Regions from separate parts of the Homo sapiens genome. Here region 1 is linked to region 2. The links come from fine-mapping of genetic effects on gene expression. A gene starts in region 2. The other region holds a variant in brackets. All regions are shown on one strand. Distances are from middle to middle.

Evidence for each region. PIP is the estimated chance that this variant, and not a neighbour inherited with it, causes the effect.
Region 1: its variant is fine-mapped to the expression of MMP1 in whole blood (TOPMed, PIP above 0.99).

The regions. Positions count from the first base shown.
Region 1 is chr11:102,922,807-102,927,203 of GRCh38, reverse strand. No RefSeq gene overlaps it. Among named protein-coding and RNA genes, the nearest start is that of MMP13, 31 kb to the left of the region's middle. The variant T/C (reference allele first, on the strand shown) is at 2,294.
Region 2 is chr11:102,795,560-102,799,956 of GRCh38, reverse strand. MMP1 (matrix metallopeptidase 1) reads left to right here and starts at 1,797. Exons shown (of 10, transcript NM_002421.4): 1 at 1,797-1,969; 2 at 2,457-2,701; 3 at 2,795-2,943; 4 at 3,168-3,293; 5 at 4,350-4,397. The coding sequence starts at 1,865. It also overlaps the pseudogene WTAPP1.

The DNA.
Region 1 (4,397 bases), 130 kb before region 2:
GAAGTCATGAGTGGGTGAGAAACCATCACGCAGAGACGGGAGCAGAGGGAGTTCTTTGCCAGCAAGAACAGAAGCGGAAATGGAGATAGAGAGTAGCTGACCCGTATGGATGGACACATGTTGTATACGCTACTTTCTCCACAAAGTCACCCTTTGTCACACTAGACCAATGTCATCTGCCTTCTAAACACAGCACTTAACTCTTCTATTTTGGTTTTAATTCCATTTTGTATCTTTTGGGGCTCTTTGAATGCAAGTAGTAGAACTGAATTCTAGCTAAGGATGCTGGGGAGTTCACAGAATTGAAAGTAAAGCTCAACTCCTATATATCAGGAAGGACAGGATCCAACAGAGTCCTGATATATTGGAGCAGGAACCCAGACTTCCTCTGGCACTCCACTGAGATGATTCTGCTCTCCTGCTTCCATCTTATACTAGTCTACCCAAGAGGGAAACTCCAGGAAGAGAGAGCTGTGTTCTCTTGGCTGAAGGCCATCAGCCACTCTTGGTGGGGCAGTATAGGGCTGACTAGACTTACAGCCCATAGCACAATGACCCTGGGGGACAAGGAAGGGAAAGGTCCTCAGAACAGAAGTTGGGTGCTTTTACTAAAAGACAGAGAATATTCTGCTGGCAAACAAAGCAAAACAGATTTGCAGTACATACCCTTCATATTTTATGATTATTTGCAGAATTGTCTTTTTCTCCACCTTAGTGGAGGCAAGTAAAACATTTTCCCCTTGAGAGAAGGATCCATTCTTTACTTTTCTTTGATTCCTCAATAATTACAGTCTTATTACTAATGGCTAACATTTGTGGAACACACACAACGCGCCATGCACTATGCTGAGTGTGTTATGTCTGTATCATCTGATCTTCTCAACAGACAGATATAGTAATTCTATTATTAAGCTCACTTTATAGGAGAAAAAACCATGGCTTGAAGAGGTTAAGAGTTTTCTTTGAAACACAGCCAGTAAGAAATAGAATCAGGGTGTGGACTTTTGTGTGATCCCAAAGTTCATGTTCTTAACCACTCTGATGTACTGACTCCACAGTATATGAGATGACTGATATATATTTCTAATAAGAGTGTTTTCCTTGCTTGTTCAAAAACTCTTTTAATACTTCTTGTAGTCCTGCACATATCTACAACTTAACAGATTTAGCGAAGACTCAGAGAAAAGCTAAGGAGAAGTAGCAAAATAGCAGAGAAATCACTGAGGAAAGAAAGCCTGAAAGAAAATTATGATCCTCAGTGTGAAAAACCCCAAAGTACATGGTCAAGTGAACCCCACTGACCATGGACAAAGAGACATCCAGATTGTTGAAAATAAATGAGACTGCCTGGGTGCAGTGGCTCACGCCTGTAATCCCAGCACTTTGGGAGACCAAAGCGGGCAGATTACCTGAGGCCAGGAGTTCAAGACCAACTTGGGCAACAGGGTGAAACTCTGTCTCTACTGAAAATACAAAATTTAGCCAGGTGTAGTTGTACGTGCCTGTAATCCCAGCTATTTGGGAGGCTGAGGCACGAGAATCACTTGAACCTGGGAGGCGGAGGGTGCAGTGAGTGGAGATTGGGCAGCTGCACTCCAGCCTGGGAAACAGAGCAAGACTCTGTCTCAAATAAATAAATAAAAATAAAATAAAATAAAATAAAAGAGACTGCCTATGAGGACCTTTTGTAGACTGAGAGAACATGGTTATTTTTACTCTAACACGTAGAACAGATCAAAATGTAAGTAAAACTAACAAGTTTTAAATAAAGTTATAGCTCACATGAAGGTTAAGGCTCTCTCAGGCCGCCACTACTTTTGCCGGTTGAAGTTAATGGAGCTCTCCACCACCTTGATCCTGCTGAGGGGCCTGGAGGCAATTTGAGCTTGCTTCACTTCCTCAATCTTCATATTCTTAGAATGTGACTTTCCGCCTCTAGCCGCCAGAGAAGTAAAACTGTCAGGATTTTTAGGCTACTGCTGGACGTGAGCACTGCAAGGACAAATTTGCTTCAAGGAGATCTCATGTGAGTCACTTGTGTTCCTAGAATGCAGGCCTCAGGAGGGACAAAAGACAGCATGGGCAAAACTGAGCTGAAATGAATGGCATCTGAAGGCTTTTGTGGCTCAGGTGGCAATGCTCTGTGCACTGACTTTACAACAAAGAATGATGGTTGTTCCCCTTTCTGGGTCCCATCCAGGGGATCTCAGCTGAGGGCGTATCCCATGGCAGGGTTACCCACATTTGGAAAAGACGACACTTGAGGGATGGGAGTGGGTTACATGGAAATTTG[T/C]GGCTTCCTCCACACTGTGACTCATTTAACCCACGTTCTGACCATAACTTCCATCTGCCTTCAGGCTCTTTGGATAATAGGGAAATAAAATCTTCATTCCTTCCTTTTCATTTTCTGCAGCACTTTTTAGCAGCTTTTGCTGATAAACACACACTGAGACATGCTAATTCTAACTCCCAGTTTGCTCGAGATGTTATTTCACATCTGCTTCAAAGCTGCTTTGTTAACCTCTCGAGCATCTCTGTCTTTTTATCTCCTCTGCCTGTGATCTAATTAGATCATAAGTCTTTGAGACCTGGATGGATCTTTTCATTCTCCAGTATACCTGAAGTTACATCTCACATGTTTACAAGATACGTAGGAGTTCATGATTGACCAAAAGCAAACAGAAACTGTTCCTCCATCCCTATGCAGTGTGCGAGTATCTGGGCTGGGTTTGAACAAGAAAGAATCGCCTTCTAGGTAGAAAGAACCAATCAATCAGATAAGAAATGCATAAAGTTTTTCAGTACAAATTTATATAGATGACTCAAAACACATGAAAAAAAGGAAATATGGAATGTTAAAATATTGTTGTTTTCAAGAAGTTGTTTTTCATCAGTTCATTTTATTTAGAACATTATCTACATGGGGTCAAAATATCATTTTCTCTTACTCTATACTTAGGACAGATCTATTGTTTTCCTTTATTACTAATCAAAAATAATTCCAAATTAGTTCCCCATTAGACAAAAGTGCAAACATACACCAGAGGCCAAAGTCACCTAGTAGTCTTAATCATTTTTTCAGGAAAGAGAAAAAAGGATCTAGTAACTTCCTCCTTATTGAACAACATGTCACTCCCTTGTTTAAAACCCATCAATGGCTGGGGTCAGTGGCTAATGCCGGTAATCCCAGCACTTTGGGAGGCCAAGGCGAGTGGATCACCTGAGGTCAGGAGTTCGAGACCAGCCTGGCCAACATGGTGAAACCCCGTCTCTACTAAAAATACAAAATTAGCCGGGCATGGTGACCCACGCCTGTAGTGCCAGCTACTCGGGAGGTTGAGACAGGAGAACTGCTTGAACCTGACAGGCAGAGGTTGCAGTGAGCCGAGATCGCACCACTGCATGCCAGCCTGGGCAGGACAGAGTAAGACTCCATCTCAAAATAAATAAGTAAAATAAAACCCATCAATGGTTCTACTTGGCTTTCAGAATTCAATTGAGACTCTTCAGAATGGCTTATAAACATCCACCTGTCCTGATGCCATGCACCCCATCTGCCTCTCACTCTGTGGCCCCGCATTCTCCTCTCCCCCACCTCCATACCTCCCCACCCCATTGCAACCTCAGCTTCAGTCATTCTTTCAGTTCCTTGAAGATGTGATGCTCTCTATCCTTTCTGGCCTTAGTATAGGACATTCTTCCCATCCCAGCTAACTCCCTCTTCAACCTTTAAGTCTCATTTTAAATGTCACTTCATCTCAGAAGTATTCCCTGGCTCCAGGTTTGAGTTAGGGGCATGGCCTCCCCCAACCCTTTTTTTTTTTTGGCCTTAAAATTGCCTATTATCTTTTCTGTATTCTCACTGGAAACTCAGTGTATGGTGGGGATCATGAAAAGTATATTCATATATGTGTATTTGTACATATCTGTGTAAGCTTAATGTATACATACATGTATATATAATAAAATGAGTAGGAGAGAGGTAGAGAGATTTGTCTCTCTTCTCATGATCTAGTGTCCTGGAGTTAGGTATTTTTGAGTGCTGGGCACAGGGAAACCCCGGGTTACCTGGAAAGTGGAAGTTCATGGTGAGGATGCTTGTAAATATGAGGAAGATCGGTGGAAGCTCTGCAGGCTCACAGCCATGCCATCCTTGGAGCAAGGCAAGGACCCCCAGACTGGGCCCCATACTTTATAGAGTGTCTTACACATTAAAAAAAAACACTTTTTAAATTTGGTATCATAAGAAGGTTTTTGAAATTTTGCTCCCCCTTTGAGTGAATGGCATTATGGGAGAAGGAGGCACAAGCTGCATTGGCCCACAGAATCAGTACAGACAAGGCTGAGAGTGCGGCAATATGTGTACATGGATGGTGGGGTTGGGGGGGGATCAAGTT
Region 2 (4,397 bases):
TCACTATTTTCTTTGTCTGTGCTGGAGTCACTTCAGTGGCAAGTGTTCTTTGGTCTCTGCCGCACCCTCCCTCTGATGCCTCTGAGAAGAGGATTTCCTTTTCGTGAGAATGTCTTCCCATTCTTCTTACCCTCTTGAACTCACATGTTATGCCACTTAGATGAGGAAATTGTAGTTAAATAATTAGAAAGGATATGACTTATCTCAAATCAATCCAAGATATACTGAAGTATTGTTTATGAGTAAGATATCAGTCTTGACGCAGAAAGAAAACAGGAATCCATAAGGGGAGGAAAGTGTTGAAAAGCAAACCTGATACAGTGGGAAAGGTGGGAGACACCATAAGGTGCTGAAGTGATAAAACAGGCCAGTGTTTCTCCACTGTATGTTTTCAATAAATGCTTCCAAGGAAGGAGAGTGGGGCATGAGTAGGGGAGCTACAGAGATAAACCAACTTTTCTTACCAGGAATGCTACAGATAGCACTGGTGACACCGGTCACCAGTACCCAAGACAATTTAATGTGGAACATAAGTACAGGAATACACATCTTTCATTACAGAGCCATGTATTTATTTTAATGGGCAGGAGATGCTAAATAAGATCTTTTGAATGGAGGAATGCATAAATATATGAATGAATGCATACATGAAAGAATAAATAAATGCTGCCTAGCACCAAGGAGCGAAGATAGACTCATATCAAGGGAAACAAGTATGATTAAAAATAAGACCCCAGAGTCACGCTCAGTCTCTTTCCAGCCTTTTCATCATCCGGTACATTCAGACAAGTTTCAGGGAAGGATCCTATTTGTCCCATGATAATGATGGGCAAGGGGTGGGGAGTTATCTCATACTCCGCCTGTGGATGAGGGGTCTTCTCAGGTAAGGCTCTTAAATCCTAGGCCTGAGTAAATTTTTTCAAATTTTATTTTAGACAGGGTCCCTCTCTGTTGCCTAGGCTGGAGTGCAGCGGCACAATCACAGCTCAATGCAGCCTCAACCTCCCAGGCCCAAGTGATCCTCCCACCTCAGCCTCTTCAGTGACTAGGACTACAGGTGCATGACTCCATGCTTGGCTAACTTTAAAAAATGTTTGTTTGTTTGTTTGTTTTTTACAGAGATGGGGTCTCACCATGTTGCCCAGGCTGATCTTGAACTCCTGGGCTCAAGTGATTCCCCTGCCTCGGCCTCCTGAAATTCTGGGATTATAGGCTTGAGCCACCATGCCTGGCTCTGAGTAAAGATTAAGGGAAGCCATGGTGCTATCGCAATAGGGTACCAGGCAGCTTAACAAAGGCAGAAGGGAACCTCAGAGAACCCCGAAGAGCCACCGTAAAGTGAGTGCTGGGGGAGCTGAACTTCAGTCAGTACAGGTGCCGAACAGCCATCAGGTGCGCAGTGTTAGTAATTCCACCCTCTGCCCTGGGAGCAAGGTGTGTGGAGAAACCTGTAGCACTTTATGACCATCAGAACCAGTCTTTTTCAAAAAGACCATGGAGTACTCTTTGACCTGTGTATATAACAAGAACCTTTCTCAAATAGGAAAGAAATGAATTGGAGAAAACCACTGTTTACATGGCAGAGTGTGTCTCCTTCGCACACATCTTGTTTGAAGTTAATCATGACATTGCAACACCAAGTGATTCCAAATAATCTGCTAGGAGTCACCATTTCTAATGATTGCCTAGTCTATTCATAGCTAATCAAGAGGATGTTATAAAGCATGAGTCAGACAGCCTCTGGCTTTCTGGAAGGGCAAGGACTCTATATATACAGAGGGAGCTTCCTAGCTGGGATATTGGAGCAGCAAGAGGCTGGGAAGCCATCACTTACCTTGCACTGAGAAAGAAGACAAAGGCCAGTATGCACAGCTTTCCTCCACTGCTGCTGCTGCTGTTCTGGGGTGTGGTGTCTCACAGCTTCCCAGCGACTCTAGAAACACAAGAGCAAGATGTGGACTTAGTCCAGGTAAATGCTGCATTGCATGTGACAATAATGTAAATTTTTAGTTTGTATTTTTCTGCAGTAATGTAATAGAGTTTTTTAAGGATAGGTTTCTTATAAAGAGATTTTTTTTTTTTTTGCTAGAAACAGCACCCTCCACCCAAAATGTATCTAGCCATGCATACGCTCTCTTTTTCCAGTTGGAGGTGAGAGTGAACTAAAGGAACAACATCCAAACTTGTCTCCACAAATTGTAGACTTGTAACAGTATGCAAATCTTGCTCTACAAAAATTGCTCTACTATGAAGTTCTTACTTCACAATAACTAATAGTAGGGACATTTCTACTCTGAAATTTCATTTCTCACCAAAAATAAGGATAAAAGCAACTGCGAAATCTAAACACAAGGTTTAAAAGCAGTTCTCTGTTTTGGCTAAAACTTAATGCCATCAATTTTTAGAATAATGAGAAAGATTTCCCATGCAGTGTTTCGATAATTTTCTTTTGTCAGAAATACCTGGAAAAATACTACAACCTGAAGAATGATGGGAGGCAAGTTGAAAAGCGGAGAAATAGTGGCCCAGTGGTTGAAAAATTGAAGCAAATGCAGGAATTCTTTGGGCTGAAAGTGACTGGGAAACCAGATGCTGAAACCCTGAAGGTGATGAAGCAGCCCAGATGTGGAGTGCCTGATGTGGCTCAGTTTGTCCTCACTGAGGGGAACCCTCGCTGGGAGCAAACACATCTGACCTACAGGTAGGCAGACTGAGGGCCAGAGTGAGAGAGCTATTTCCCATGACAGTGGTAAGAAGTCATGTCCAATGTGTCTCTATTTTGTTTCATTCTAAGGATTGAAAATTACACGCCAGATTTGCCAAGAGCAGATGTGGACCATGCCATTGAGAAAGCCTTCCAACTCTGGAGTAATGTCACACCTCTGACATTCACCAAGGTCTCTGAGGGTCAAGCAGACATCATGATATCTTTTGTCAGGGGAGGTAAGTTCTTCTTATAGCACCTTAACCTCACCTTGCCCCTAGATCTCGTAGCTTTGCAACTGGAATTGATTGTTTAAGATGAATGTTGATTTTATGGGCTCGAAGAGGGAAACTGCATCACAGTTGATGGAAGTCTGTTGGCCTCTTAACAAAGCTAATGCTTGCCCTTCTGGCTTAGCTTACATAAGAACCACAAGGAATCTTTGTTGAATTGTTTCTTTCAGATCATCGGGACAACTCTCCTTTTGATGGACCTGGAGGAAATCTTGCTCATGCTTTTCAACCAGGCCCAGGTATTGGAGGGGATGCTCATTTTGATGAAGATGAAAGGTGGACCAACAATTTCAGAGGTAAGCCAATCAAATTTGCCTCTCTCAATTCTCCCACCCCTTCATGTTTCATTGTAATATTGGTTGATTTAGTTGAAAGAATGCATTCATAGAAGTATATATTTTTCTATTACCACTCAGAAAATTAGTGATACACTTAGAAAAGTGAAAGAGCGGTCTTTTCTGCTAGCTAACAACATCTTAGCAGTGACAACTAGGCCACTCTAAAATTTTTATTAAGAAAATTGTTGAAAACTTTGATGTTTTAATTGTGGGCATCAACATTGAAACTTTTTCATTAGAAGAAAACAGTGAAATTTAACAGCGGTCATAAACTTATGTGGAAATTAAAGAAAAGGAAGGCTTTTTGTGTTTTCCAAAATTTCCAGCAGTCAACATTTATCAGTTTTGTAAATAAGAAAAATATTAAATATTAGGCTGGGCGCAGTGGCTCATGCCTGTAATCCCAGCACTTTGGGAGGCCAAGGCAGGCAGATCACAACGTCAGGAGTTTGACACCAGCCTGACCAATATGGTGAAACCCTGTCTCTTCTAAAAATATAAAAATTAGACAGGCATGGTGGCACACGTCTGTAATCTCAGCTACTCAGGAGGCTGAGGCAGGAGAACCGCCTGAACCCAGGAGGCAGAGGTTGCAGTGAGCCAAGATCATGCCACTGCCCTCCAGCCTGGGTGACAGAGCAAGACTCCGTCTCAAGAAAGAAAAAAAGAAAAAGAAAAATATTAAATGTTAATAGAACATTTTGCTTCTGTGTGAAATAGTACGTGTCATTTAATCATTGATAATATTGATTAATCTGTGGTGCGCTTTCAGTCAGCTGAGTTTGTCTTTTAATTGTATCAATGTAATCATAGAGTTTAGGTTTCAACATGTCTCTTCGTTATTAATAAATGCATGCCTTCTGCCTTCGGAAAAAAGATATACATGCATATATTTCAAAAGTCACTGATAAAATAGTAACATGAGTCCTTGTAGTTGTAAATTATTTATTAGTTAAATGCCTCAAAACTGAATACCTTTCAAATAATTACAAATTGATTTATTGGCCTTTTTAGAGTACAACTTACATCGTGTTGCAGCTCATGAACTCGGCCATTCTCTTG